3 linked regions of the Homo sapiens genome follow. The protein of the gene in region 2 purifies or fractionates together with the protein of the main gene of each other region. This does not show direct contact. Each region holds a gene or a part of one and is shown on either strand. Other genes may lie near its edges.

The links.
Region 1: the proteins of ROCK2 (region 2) and DUSP16 purify together in Homo sapiens (affinity purification with mass spectrometry; one large-scale study listed by BioGRID and IntAct). This does not show direct contact.
Region 3: the proteins of ROCK2 (region 2) and TXNDC5 fractionate together in Homo sapiens (co-fractionation; one large-scale study listed by BioGRID). This does not show direct contact.

What each region holds. Positions count from the first base shown.
Region 1 is NC_000012.12:12,521,268-12,524,920, reverse strand, and holds part of DUSP16 (dual specificity protein phosphatase 16), read left to right. Parts: intron 1-3,457; 5' UTR 3,458-3,653. UniProt on the Homo sapiens protein: Dual specificity protein phosphatase involved in the inactivation of MAP kinases. Dephosphorylates MAPK10 bound to ARRB2.
Region 2 is NC_000002.12:11,198,065-11,201,717, forward strand, and holds part of ROCK2 (rho-associated protein kinase 2), read right to left. Parts: intron 3,350-3,653; coding exon 3,246-3,349; intron 3,080-3,245; coding exon 2,893-3,079; intron 711-2,892; coding exon 617-710; intron 522-616; coding exon 427-521; intron 1-426. UniProt on the Homo sapiens protein: Protein kinase which is a key regulator of actin cytoskeleton and cell polarity.
Region 3 is NC_000006.12:7,886,726-7,890,378, reverse strand, and holds part of TXNDC5 (thioredoxin domain-containing protein 5 isoform 1 precursor), read left to right. Parts: intron 1-797; coding exon 798-884; intron 885-1,530; coding exon 1,531-1,674; intron 1,675-3,653. UniProt on the Homo sapiens protein: Protein disulfide isomerase of the endoplasmic reticulum lumen involved in the formation of disulfide bonds in proteins. Can reduce insulin disulfide bonds.

The sequences.
Region 1 (3,653 bases), on a different chromosome or scaffold from region 2:
TGTATTTGCTGAAGTTTCAATATCGTGGCAATTTTAAACACCTTTATTGATGTATAAGTGACACAATAAACTGTACACGTTCATACTATGTATACATTTTTAGACTTTTTTTGAACCATATGAATATATTACCTATTTAAAAATCTAAAGAAAGTATTTCAACTTTAGCAGCTGGCTAAATAAATAGATAAATAGCAAAGCTGGTCTGCTCTGGATTTTGTTCTATGGACTTGAGCCTTTGTGGTTCATTGTAAAAATTTTTATTCCCCTTGACTTATAGAAATTCTGGGTAAGATTAGCTTGGTGATGTTGCAAGCAAAATATTCTCTTGTCATCTTTCAAATCTTACCTAATGCAAAGGATTTTGAAAACAAAACAGTAACTACAGAGAAATTTTTAAAATTAGACTCATAGCCAGTGATGGAGATTTAACCAAAATTCTCTAACTGTAAATGAAAGAGATTAAGGCCATTGTTACTTTACCCTCCATGATCCCTTGGCAGGGCTCTGCCTCTCACCTCACCCATTTAGCACTACAGAGAATTAGACCTTGGGCATGAAGTCCTACCAGGAGGACTCCAGCTGGCCTCAGTACAGCACTGAAAGAATGGAACTTCACCCTCACTTCACTTTTACCCCTATGCTTCACTTACATCCTCAGCTTAGAGTCACTTTGACCAGAGCCTTTCTTGGTCAGGGAAAGGGTCTTTTTATATCTGTAACTAAGCTCTGATTCTCTGGGCAAGAATGACATTCTCTGCTCTGTAGAACTGTTTGTTGTAACCTGTCTTTGGGTTTATGAGAATTGGCTGAGGGGAAGCAAAGATGAGAACTTTCTAATTCAACTTTTGCATGTTTGCTGACTTCTCCCTCCTTTTGTCCCTTGATCTGCTAACCCAGATAACTGCTTTGTCCCATCCGGATTTTATCTCTTTGAGAGGAGCCAATCAGACTCAGAGACCCAGTGCCATTGTTGGAATCAACTTGCTCTTGTTCTCGGATTTCCACTTTCTGTGCCACCTGGGTACCCTCATGGACAATTGGCATCATTCTTTCCCAGTCCAGTTCCATTATGGGAACAAGTACTTAGGGAAAACAGGGCAACCCAGTAGTAGAAGCCCTGGTTTGGGAATCAGACAATCTGAATACAGGACCTTACATTGCCGTGAACTCTGTCACTGAGCAGGCAGAACCTGATTGAGTGGTATGGCTTTGGTAGGCGCTTTGCAGAAGTTTATTAGTGGATTGACTAGGACAAATTCTCTCTTATAGTTCCTTCAGTTGAAAATAGAGATGACTTTTGTACTTCATTACCATAAAGCTATGCTAAAAATAATACATTAATGAAAGTTGTTTCTTGGAAAATAAGAAATGGAAATATAATGTATTAAATGGAGCTGGTTTGTAAAATATGGTGTGGTTGAGACAGTATCTCAGGTGCCTTCTAACTCCCTGTGTGTCAGCCTCTGTGAGAAAGGGCACAGTTTGGTTGCAGCTGTACTATAGGAGGATGGAATTACATCTGTTTTTATCTGTGAGTGATGTCTTTCAGATGCCAGATGCAAGCCAGCTTTGTTTGCCATTGGCATCTGTAGGGTATTTTTCCTCCTGTCTATGATGCATAGTTGCTTTTTTATTTACCAGCTTTCAATAAATTAGATAATTTTGTTCTCAGACCAAATTTGAAGAGATGAGGCCACTATAATGTCTCCATTTTGTAGGTGAAGAAACTGTGGTTTAGAGAGGTTATGTGATTTGTCCAAGGTTGCATAAGTAAATGGCAAAGCTACATCTCTTTATATCATGCTCCACCTTCTGTCTCCATGCTTTAGCTTCTAATTTGTAAGTACAAAATTAGGAAACATGATCTAAAGGTTTTTAAAGGCTCTGACATCCTGACCTGAAATCAGCTAATCAAATATTTATTTAGAATCTTAAACTGTTTTTGGAACAAGGAAGAATTTACCTACTATAATAATATATTGAGTATGTTATGTCCAAAGTACTGTAGAAGTAAGAAATATAATAAACTTTTGCAATCAAATATTTACCCTCTAGGCTGGGTGCGGTGGCTCATACCTGTAGTCCCAGCACTTTGGGAGGCTGAGACAGGTGGATTGCTTGAGCCCAGGAGTTTGAGACCAGCCTGGGCAACATGGCGAAACCCTGTCTCTACAAAAAGTACAAAAATTAGCTGGGTGTGGTGGTGCGCGCCTGTAGTCCCAGCAACTTGGGAGGCTGAGGCAGGAGAATCACTTGAGCCTGAGAGGCAGGGGTTGCAGTGAGCTGAGATTGTGCTACTGCACTGCAGCCTGGGTGACAGAGCAAGACCCTGTCTCAAAAAAAAAAAAAATTTACCCTCTAGAAGTTCAGTGCCAGAAGTAGACATGTAGTTTTATGTAGTAGAGGATTTCATATAAGCAGAGATGGACCAGGGGAGATAGGAATCCGAGAGTATTGAAGGTCAAGGTGAAGTCCAAGCAATAAGCGCAAAACTTCAACTAGTGTTAATTAGAAAGTGATTGATTAAAGGAGTTTGGCAAGAAAGGGAAGCACTGGGTTCAGCTTTAAGGGCTCTCTATGTCTGGGTTGCCAACTTAGAGTTCCAGGTTAAGGGGTGAGATTTTTTTAAGACTAGGAGTTAGTGATTCTCTGAAGAATGAAGCAGGAAAAAGTGAAGGATAAGCTTACAGGGCCTTAAGCAACTTGGTGGTAGGGAGATGGCCTCCGGAAGGAGACATGACAGGGCCATGGCTGTGAGCTTCAGCACTTCACAGGCCTAGCTCAGCAGCTGCTGTGACAAACATATCAGTTGTTTTTGTCCTTCCTCTTCCTTAAAAGATAGCTGAAATTTATAGAAACTCCAGTTTTCCTGCATCTTCTCTCCTCCGTGAGGGCAATTTTAAAAGGCTGCTGTTTGCGCCCTGGTACTCGCGTGAGCTCACATGTGCACACACATACACACATATACACCTACCCATTCATCGCAGGAATTCTCAAGCCATTTCAGAAAATATTTTTTTTTTTGTCCTGGTAACACAGGATTGCTAACTTTGTCCTCAGCTGCCATTCTTTGTGGGATTTCAATAAATAAGCAAATAAAATATAGGAAAACTATTTGGAATAATAATACTTCAAGCAGCTTTTTGTAGCCCTTTTAATTCAATACTACAGGTCATTTAGTTCTGAGCCCTAGGTGATTATAATTCATGATATGTCTTGTTTTGTTTTCTTTGAGTTTTTACATTTTGAGGTAAAATGGAATTATCACTAGCACATTTTTCTGAAGCCATACCAATTTGTCCTTTTTATTTGTTTGTTCAAATGAAGCAGTGCATCAAGTATGGAATTAGATTAATGGAGTAAATATTATGAATCATACACTCTCTCTAATCTGACACTCTTTCTTCTTTTTTTGACCTCACGTTTTGTTTTCTGTCTTTCTCTCTCCGCGTAGGCTTTCAGTCCAGTGTAAAGCTGTTGGAGCGCGGGAGCAAAGGTAAAGAATGATGTAATGCGCTGGCTGCTCCAAAGCATCTTTTGTTGTGGAATGGTTATTCCAGTCATCTCTTTATGAATCAAATGTGAGGGGCTGCTTTGTGGACGGAGTCCTTTGCAAGAGCACATCAACGGGAAAGAGAAAGAGACATTCA
Region 2 (3,653 bases):
TCAAATTAATAAAATATTCTATGTGCAACAACAGTGAAGAGTATCTAGTACCCCACCTGTTCATGCAGTACATATGCAACTGTAGGAGTTGGCAGAGAGTGAACTAACTGACACTTTTCAGGTTGTCAGCAAATGGTCAATCCCAACAGTTCTTAAAAGTAGAAAAACACATTAAATTACAACAATAAATTGAAAGAGAATGTGATTCCAAAAGGAAATATTAAGAAAAATTTTAGTTGCTATAGAATTTAACAATATTAATCAAATCTAACTTCTCTCAACCTGGCAAAAATCAGGTAATTGTGACTTCACAAATATTGGTACATTCGATGACTACTGCTACCAATTTGTAATGCTAGAAGTAAAATGTAAAAGAGATAAACTGAGACAAAATTCAAAATCATATTTAGATTCTATTATACATACTTGAGTTTTGAGTGTTCTTTCTGTTAATAGCTGCTTCTCAAACTGTGCTTTAATAGCTGCTGCGCTTATTTCTTCATCTTTCAATCTTGACAGTTCTGAAACATGGAAAAAAGTTAAAATTACATTGGTAATTACAGCAGCTGATAAACATTAGGTATATTAAAAATAAACATTTTTTGTTAATACATACGCTCTTGAACATCTTTCAATTTGTTATTTAATTCTTCTTTCTCATTTGCAAGATTGGCAACATCACTAGTTAGTGTCCTATTAGTTTCCTCAAGCTAAGAAATGAAAGAGGAAAAAATAATCACATCCCAATTTACACAATTTATGTTATAAAATGATTCAAATGAGAAACATCCTAGAATATTGTTAAACCTCTTATTTTTCTTTTTTTTTTTTTTTTGAGACAGAGTCTTGCTCTGTCACCCAGGTGAGTCTTGCTCTGTCAACCAGGAGTGCAGTGGCGCAATCTCAGCTCACTGCAACCTCCGCCTCCTGGGTTCAAGTGATTCTCCTGCCTCAGCCTCCTTAGTAGCTGGGATTACAGGCATGCGCCACCACACCTGGCTAATTTTTATAGTTTTAGTAGAGATGGGGTTTCACTATGTTGGTCAGGCTGGTCTCAAACTCCTGGCCTCGAGTGATCGCCCGCCTAGGCCTCTCAAAGTGCTGGGATTACTTACAGGCATAAGCCAACACACCTGGCCTGAAGGAAGTTTTACTGTAAATTACGTGTTTTGCCTTTCCACCCATGACTGTATTTCATTATATACACATGAAACAATACACAGTGTGGCTTTATGTGATTTTCTTTTTTTTTTTTCTCTCTTTTTGGAGACAAGGTCTCAAGCTCTGTTGCCCAGGCTGGAGTGCAATGGCGTGCGATCACCACTCACTGTAGCCTCAGCCTCCAAGGCTCTAAGGATCCTCCCACCTCAGCCCCCATGAGTAGCTAGCTGGGACTATAGGCATGAACCACCACACCTGGATAAAAAAAATTTTTTTTTTTTTTTGGTAGAAACAGGGTCTCACTATGTTGCCTAGGCTGGTCTCAAACTCCTGGAGCTCAAGCAATACTCCCACCTTCAACTCCAAAAGTGCTGCAATTACAGGCATGAGCCACCATGCCAGGCTGCGATTTTCTATCTTACTGAATTTATCTTTCTGTAATTGTTTTCACTCAATAGCATATTAAGGCATTAAATTGCTGATACAAATGAAGATCTGATGTAATAGTTCCATCTTCTATTACATTTAATGCATGCATTCATTCATTCATGGACATTTGAGTTTTTGCTAAATATTTATGCTGCTATAAGCATTGTGCCTAAATTTCTATAGTGTATTTATCTTAATGTGGACTTTCTTCTGACTGCATTATGTGAATGCCTAAAATTTACTGGAAACTGTCATACTACTTACTGTACTATGCCATACTAAATTTATACTACCCATAGTGAATAAGAATGCCATTTTCTAGACATTCTTCAGACACTTGAAATTGTCAGCTACTGAATTTCTGCCAAAGTGATGGGTATGAAATGGTATTTCAAAGTTGTTTTACCTAGGCTTTTCCTGAACAATAGTGAGGTTAAGTACATGCTTATATATTTAGGTTTTCTCTTTCAGCTAAGTTTTCTTCCAAATTCTTTAATCTTATCTTACTGAATTGCAGACATTCTACATATACTCTAGATACAAATCCCTTGTTTAATAAATATATTACAAATATCTCCCTTCTGTCATTTGTTTATGCTGTCTTCTGTCATATGCAACTTTTAGATTCTGTTCTGATAGCTTAAAATTTTTATTTTTCATAGTCCTTAAGATAGCTAGAATTTACTTTTGTGTGTGATGTAGTGGGGATTTAATTTTATTCCTTTCCATATAAAAACACAGTTATTCTGAAACCATTTATGAAATGTGTCCTTTCCCAGTGATTTGTGTACTGCCACTCCCATCATATATACCAAGTTCCTGTATGTGCAGAAATCTTTCTGGCCTCCCTTTTCATTTCCACTGAACAGGATTGAATATCCCTGTTCTAATACCAGACTTTTTAATTACCGCAGCATTTCAATAGGTCTAGTTAATTGATAGGGTAAACCTAACTACTTGATATTTGACCTCTCTCTGAAATTTTTATTGCAATTTTTTCAACCTGCACGGAACTGTTTTCCTGGTAGTTTCAAGATTCTTCTGAACTAAGTTCTGTTTAAAAAGAAAAAAAAAAATGACCCTTTCACTTTAGACCTTTAACTTTGAATTCATTAACAGGTGAAGTCACTTTTAGTAAGCTCCTCTGACAACATTGAGAAGGTGGCAGTTAACTAGATTAAAAATCTTGTAGTCAGCATATATAATTTTTCATTTAGATCTGTGATACTTAGTATGTCTAAAGAAGGTTTAAGATATAGCAATTTAACTATAATCCAAAAAAGCACCAAGAATTTGACTTACAGAAGCAATTGTAGCATCTTTTTCCGTAAGTTCCTGTTTGTGTCTAGCCATCATCTCTTTGATCTCCAGCTCTTTCATGATCTTCTCTTTTTCCAAATCAGAATATTGTTCTTCAGCAATTGAACGAGCCAGTTGCTCAGAATCTGCTTTGGTCAAGGTGATCTCCAGTTGGGCAGCCAAAGAGTCCCTACATTTTAGCAATATATCATTTTAATGGTTCAGTTTTCACTATGAAGTGAAAGTTTTTGTCTAATTCACTTCATCAATAATTTTTTATTTGGTGATTACCAGGCATTGTTCTAGGAGCAAAGTATACAGCTATGAACAAAAAGAGACAAGGGTCTCATACTTACCGTTCATCCTGTAATTCCTGTTTCTTCTGCTGCAATTCTTTACCAAGTTTGGTCTTTTCTTCACATTCTTCTTTAAGCTCCCTAACTTGTGTTTTATAAAGGGTCTAAATAGCAAAATACAACAGAAATGCGTATCATCATCAGAAATATTACTTCTACATTCAAAAGCTATTCAGACAAAAAGGAGAATGAACACATACAAATATTTTCTTACTGCTAAGTCCCCGAGCAAATGAATAGTTTAATGAACTTTCCTATTTCTAGTCATCAATTAACTAATACAAGTTCAGGTAATAATTAAGAAGCATGATTTTCAACTGGATATCACAGTGATATTTCTCATTTAATAGCACAGATAGGTAAAATGAATAAGGAGGCAAGGAAAAACATTAACAATTTAGACAAAAA
Region 3 (3,653 bases), on a different chromosome or scaffold from region 2:
GAGGCCTCTTGTACTTCAGTTCCGCACCTTAGCTGCTCTCTGACGGGTCTTAGGTGTTGAAATAGTATTTTTACCCCCGTTTGCTGACATAGTGAATAACAACTTAGTCCTGCCTATTTTAGTGCTGGTAGAAAATAAAAAAGAAAGCAATGACTTAGAACAAGATGTTTCATGAAAATGTTGGGCAAGCAGCAGCTTTATGAGATTTAAATGAAAGAAAAAGCTTGAAGAGCTGTGCTTGTTGGTAAATTAAGTTTATAAAATTAAGGACGGATTATAATCTTGACATCTTTGCAGTCTTACCTTTATTATATACCAACTACTCCTGTTTAAAATTCACTTCTTGCTCCCTGTTGATTTTAAAACCCTCTAAGCTTCAGCATGAGAGTAAATTCTAAGCTGGCATGTGAACTGGTCTGGGTCCCAGTCACCGACAGCCAGGCTAACCCCCCTCCCACCACCACCAAATGTCAAGCCAGGGCCCTGACTCAAGCTACCAGGTGCTGACTTTACTTGCTCGAGTTAAAATGTTGCTTCCTAAAAACCGGCATGTTTAACTGAGCTATTAATACAATAAATCTTGCCTCTAAAGTCTTTCCTTTACTCCTTTTAGCTCAGGTATGTTTTAGCATAGCTTTCAGGAACATTCTCTTCAAAAACTGCACCTTGCTGGCAGAGTTGCTACAGAATGTGGATTTTGAAAAGAATATTTGTAACGTACAAAGTGTCCAGTAGCCCCATTAGCAAGAAGGTTCATGAAGAAACTGACTGGGAAGTTGATCTGCTTTTATTCTCAGGTTGATTGTACACAGCACTATGAACTCTGCTCCGGAAACCAGGTTCGTGGCTATCCCACTCTTCTCTGGTTCCGAGATGGGAAAAAGGTACGTCTGCACTTCTTAGTACTGAGAATTCTTCATCTCTTAACCCCATCAGGCTGAGCTACTGAGTGGTTTAATGGGCACAGTGAATTGCCAATCTTGATTGTTAGGGCACTGGTTTGGAGAAATGTGTATAATGAAACAAACGTCTTTCTCTTAATTGATAAGATTTGGGTTGTGGAGATGAACCTTGAAACATTTCAGTGGCCCAGGTTATCACTAGAATAACCCACATCTTACAGTCACAGGGTAACTGTGCTCTGGTTGTAAACACAAACCTTCAGGCCTTTGAACAGAGCTAAGGCTTGCACTTGGTCCGGTTCTGCCTGCCTCCCTCCCTCCTTCCCTGGCCGATGGTCAGCAGCTCAGAGTTCCCCATCAGCACAACGGCTTGCTGGCAGGCCTCTGCCCCAGACTTCTGTGATGTGTAACCCCGTGGAGGGAAGAGGGGCCTGTACAGTTCTCTCACCAAAGCCGAGGCATTCAGTTATCCTCTCTACATTCCCGTCTAAATATGAACATGCAGACTTTGCACCACCGCTAAGACATCTGGGAGCTCTGACCCGGGCAAGCAGGGGTTGCAGGAAGGCTTAAGTGATTCAGAACACCTCAGTGGACTCACTCAGCCGCGTGCCCGTGTCTTGGCCAGGTGGATCAGTACAAGGGAAAGCGGGATTTGGAGTCACTGAGGGAGTACGTGGAGTCGCAGCTGCAGCGCACAGAGACTGGAGCGACGGAGACCGTCACGCCCTCAGAGGCCCCGGTGCTGGCAGCTGAGCCCGAGGCTGACAAGGTGGGTGCCTGCTGGAGTCGGGATCCCCATAAGTGGCCCGTGGCCCCCGGCCCCCCACCTCCCCACCCTCAGAGGCCTCCTCAAATGCTTTGGACAAAATGACAGTTTGGGGACACAGTCATCTGATGGTTGGCTCCAGTTGCGTTTTCAACACGTATTTTTCATCGACTTTCACATGCTTTCAGGGGCGAATGCAAACAAAAGCTTTCCTTTTGAAAACATGAAATGGATGTGAGACAAATCCCAAGACAATATTTGGTGTCAAAAATCTCTAGAGAATCCTTCCTTTCCGCTTCATTCATTTTAAAGAATGACTCTGCTGGGCATGTTTCTGCTATGAAATCTCGACTGCTGGCCCCGGGGCCCTGATTCTATTCCTGACCTTGCTCCGGGCATTTTCCTTTACCCGTTGTAAAGGCCCCTAGAAGACCTGTAGCCAAGAGGGCATCCGCAGCGATCAGGCCAGTGACTGTAGCTGTAACCTGCCTAGGCAGTCCTGATGCACTGAGGGGCTTCCTTCCTTCACTCAGGTAGCAGGAGGTTTCAGATTCATTTGTTCTGCTTTATGAAGCCCTTGTTATGTCACAGGCACTGTTCTAGGCCACCAGGGAATAAAAATAAGACCGGTTTCCTGCCTCTGAAGCATACAGGTCTCTGAGGCAAATGGTGAGAAGACACACAAGCCAATGGCAGGGGGCTGGGGCAGAAATGTGTGCAGGGCTTGGCTGCTAGAGAGAAGTGGGGGCAAATGGGCAAGAAGTGTCCCTAAGGAGCTGATTGACGGGATCTGTGCTGGACAGATAGGCTGGGCAGGGCTGCCACTGAGGGGCTGCACCAGGAGAGGCACAACCCGAGAATCAGCCGGCATTTCTGCAGGGCCAGAGCTGGGGCTGGGGGAACACAGTGGGAGACAGGTCAGGGTGTGGTGTAGGATCCCTGAGAGTGAGAGAGGAGCTGGAGTTGAGAGTCTGTGGGCAGCTGGCCAAGGATTAGGAACTGTATCCCATATTGACAGGGAGCCCATGGAGGCTCTGTGCAGATTGGAGTTGTAGGAAAATGACCGGCATGCACGTGTGCTGGAGGTGGGAAGCTGCTCTATTAGGCCTTTAAAGATGATGCGTTCCCTCATGCTGCAGCCGTGACTGTGCGATGGCGAGGAGGAGAAAGCCAGCATAAGGAGTCCAGCCGCTGTGCAGCGCGGAGAGGGAGGGAGGGTCCGAGGCGAGTCTGATTCCCGCATATCTGGTGGAGGATGGTACCCAGCACAGGGGCGGGGCCAGAGCTCGAGGAAAGGGATGAGCTTGGTTTTCAAGGTGTTGATCTTCAAGGCTTTCGGCTGTGTAGGTGGCAGTGTCCAGTGGCAGTTCCAACCATGAGCCTGGGGCTGCGGCAGGAGGTCTGCACTGGACGAGAGTGCCCGTGTCATCCTCTTCAGGTAGAAGTCATGCCTGAAGGCCAGGAGTTTGGATTTGGAAAAACCAGTGGGGCCACCAACCCCTCCTCCCTGGTGGGGCCACACCAGGCCTCCTCACCCCTACAACCCTGTCCCTAGTTGGGCTCTTGTAGGTCGGGGATGGCCTGAGTGTTGTTTAAAAGTTGACGTTTTGGTTGAAGAAGTAAACAGCTGATTTTGTAGTTGTCAGGACCACTTATGTTAGAGGAGTGTATGTGTCATGGTGGTTACAAAGGTCATCCCAAATTGAGTATAATTATATACCACGGATGTTTTCATCGCAGCACCATTTCTATTTATAATGCAGTTTTCCACCATGAAGTGGGTCTTTTCAGTGCGTGTGGCGTCATGTTTCTGGACATAAAGATGGTAGTGTTCCACAGTGGCCCCCTTGGCCTCCGTCACTGACATGTTACTCGATGCCAGACTCAAATGGAGCAGCCCTGGTACACTTAGCCACGTGATAAATCATCCCATTCCTGCTCTCAGGAGAGAATCGCAGATCCATTTTTGGAGAAACACATAG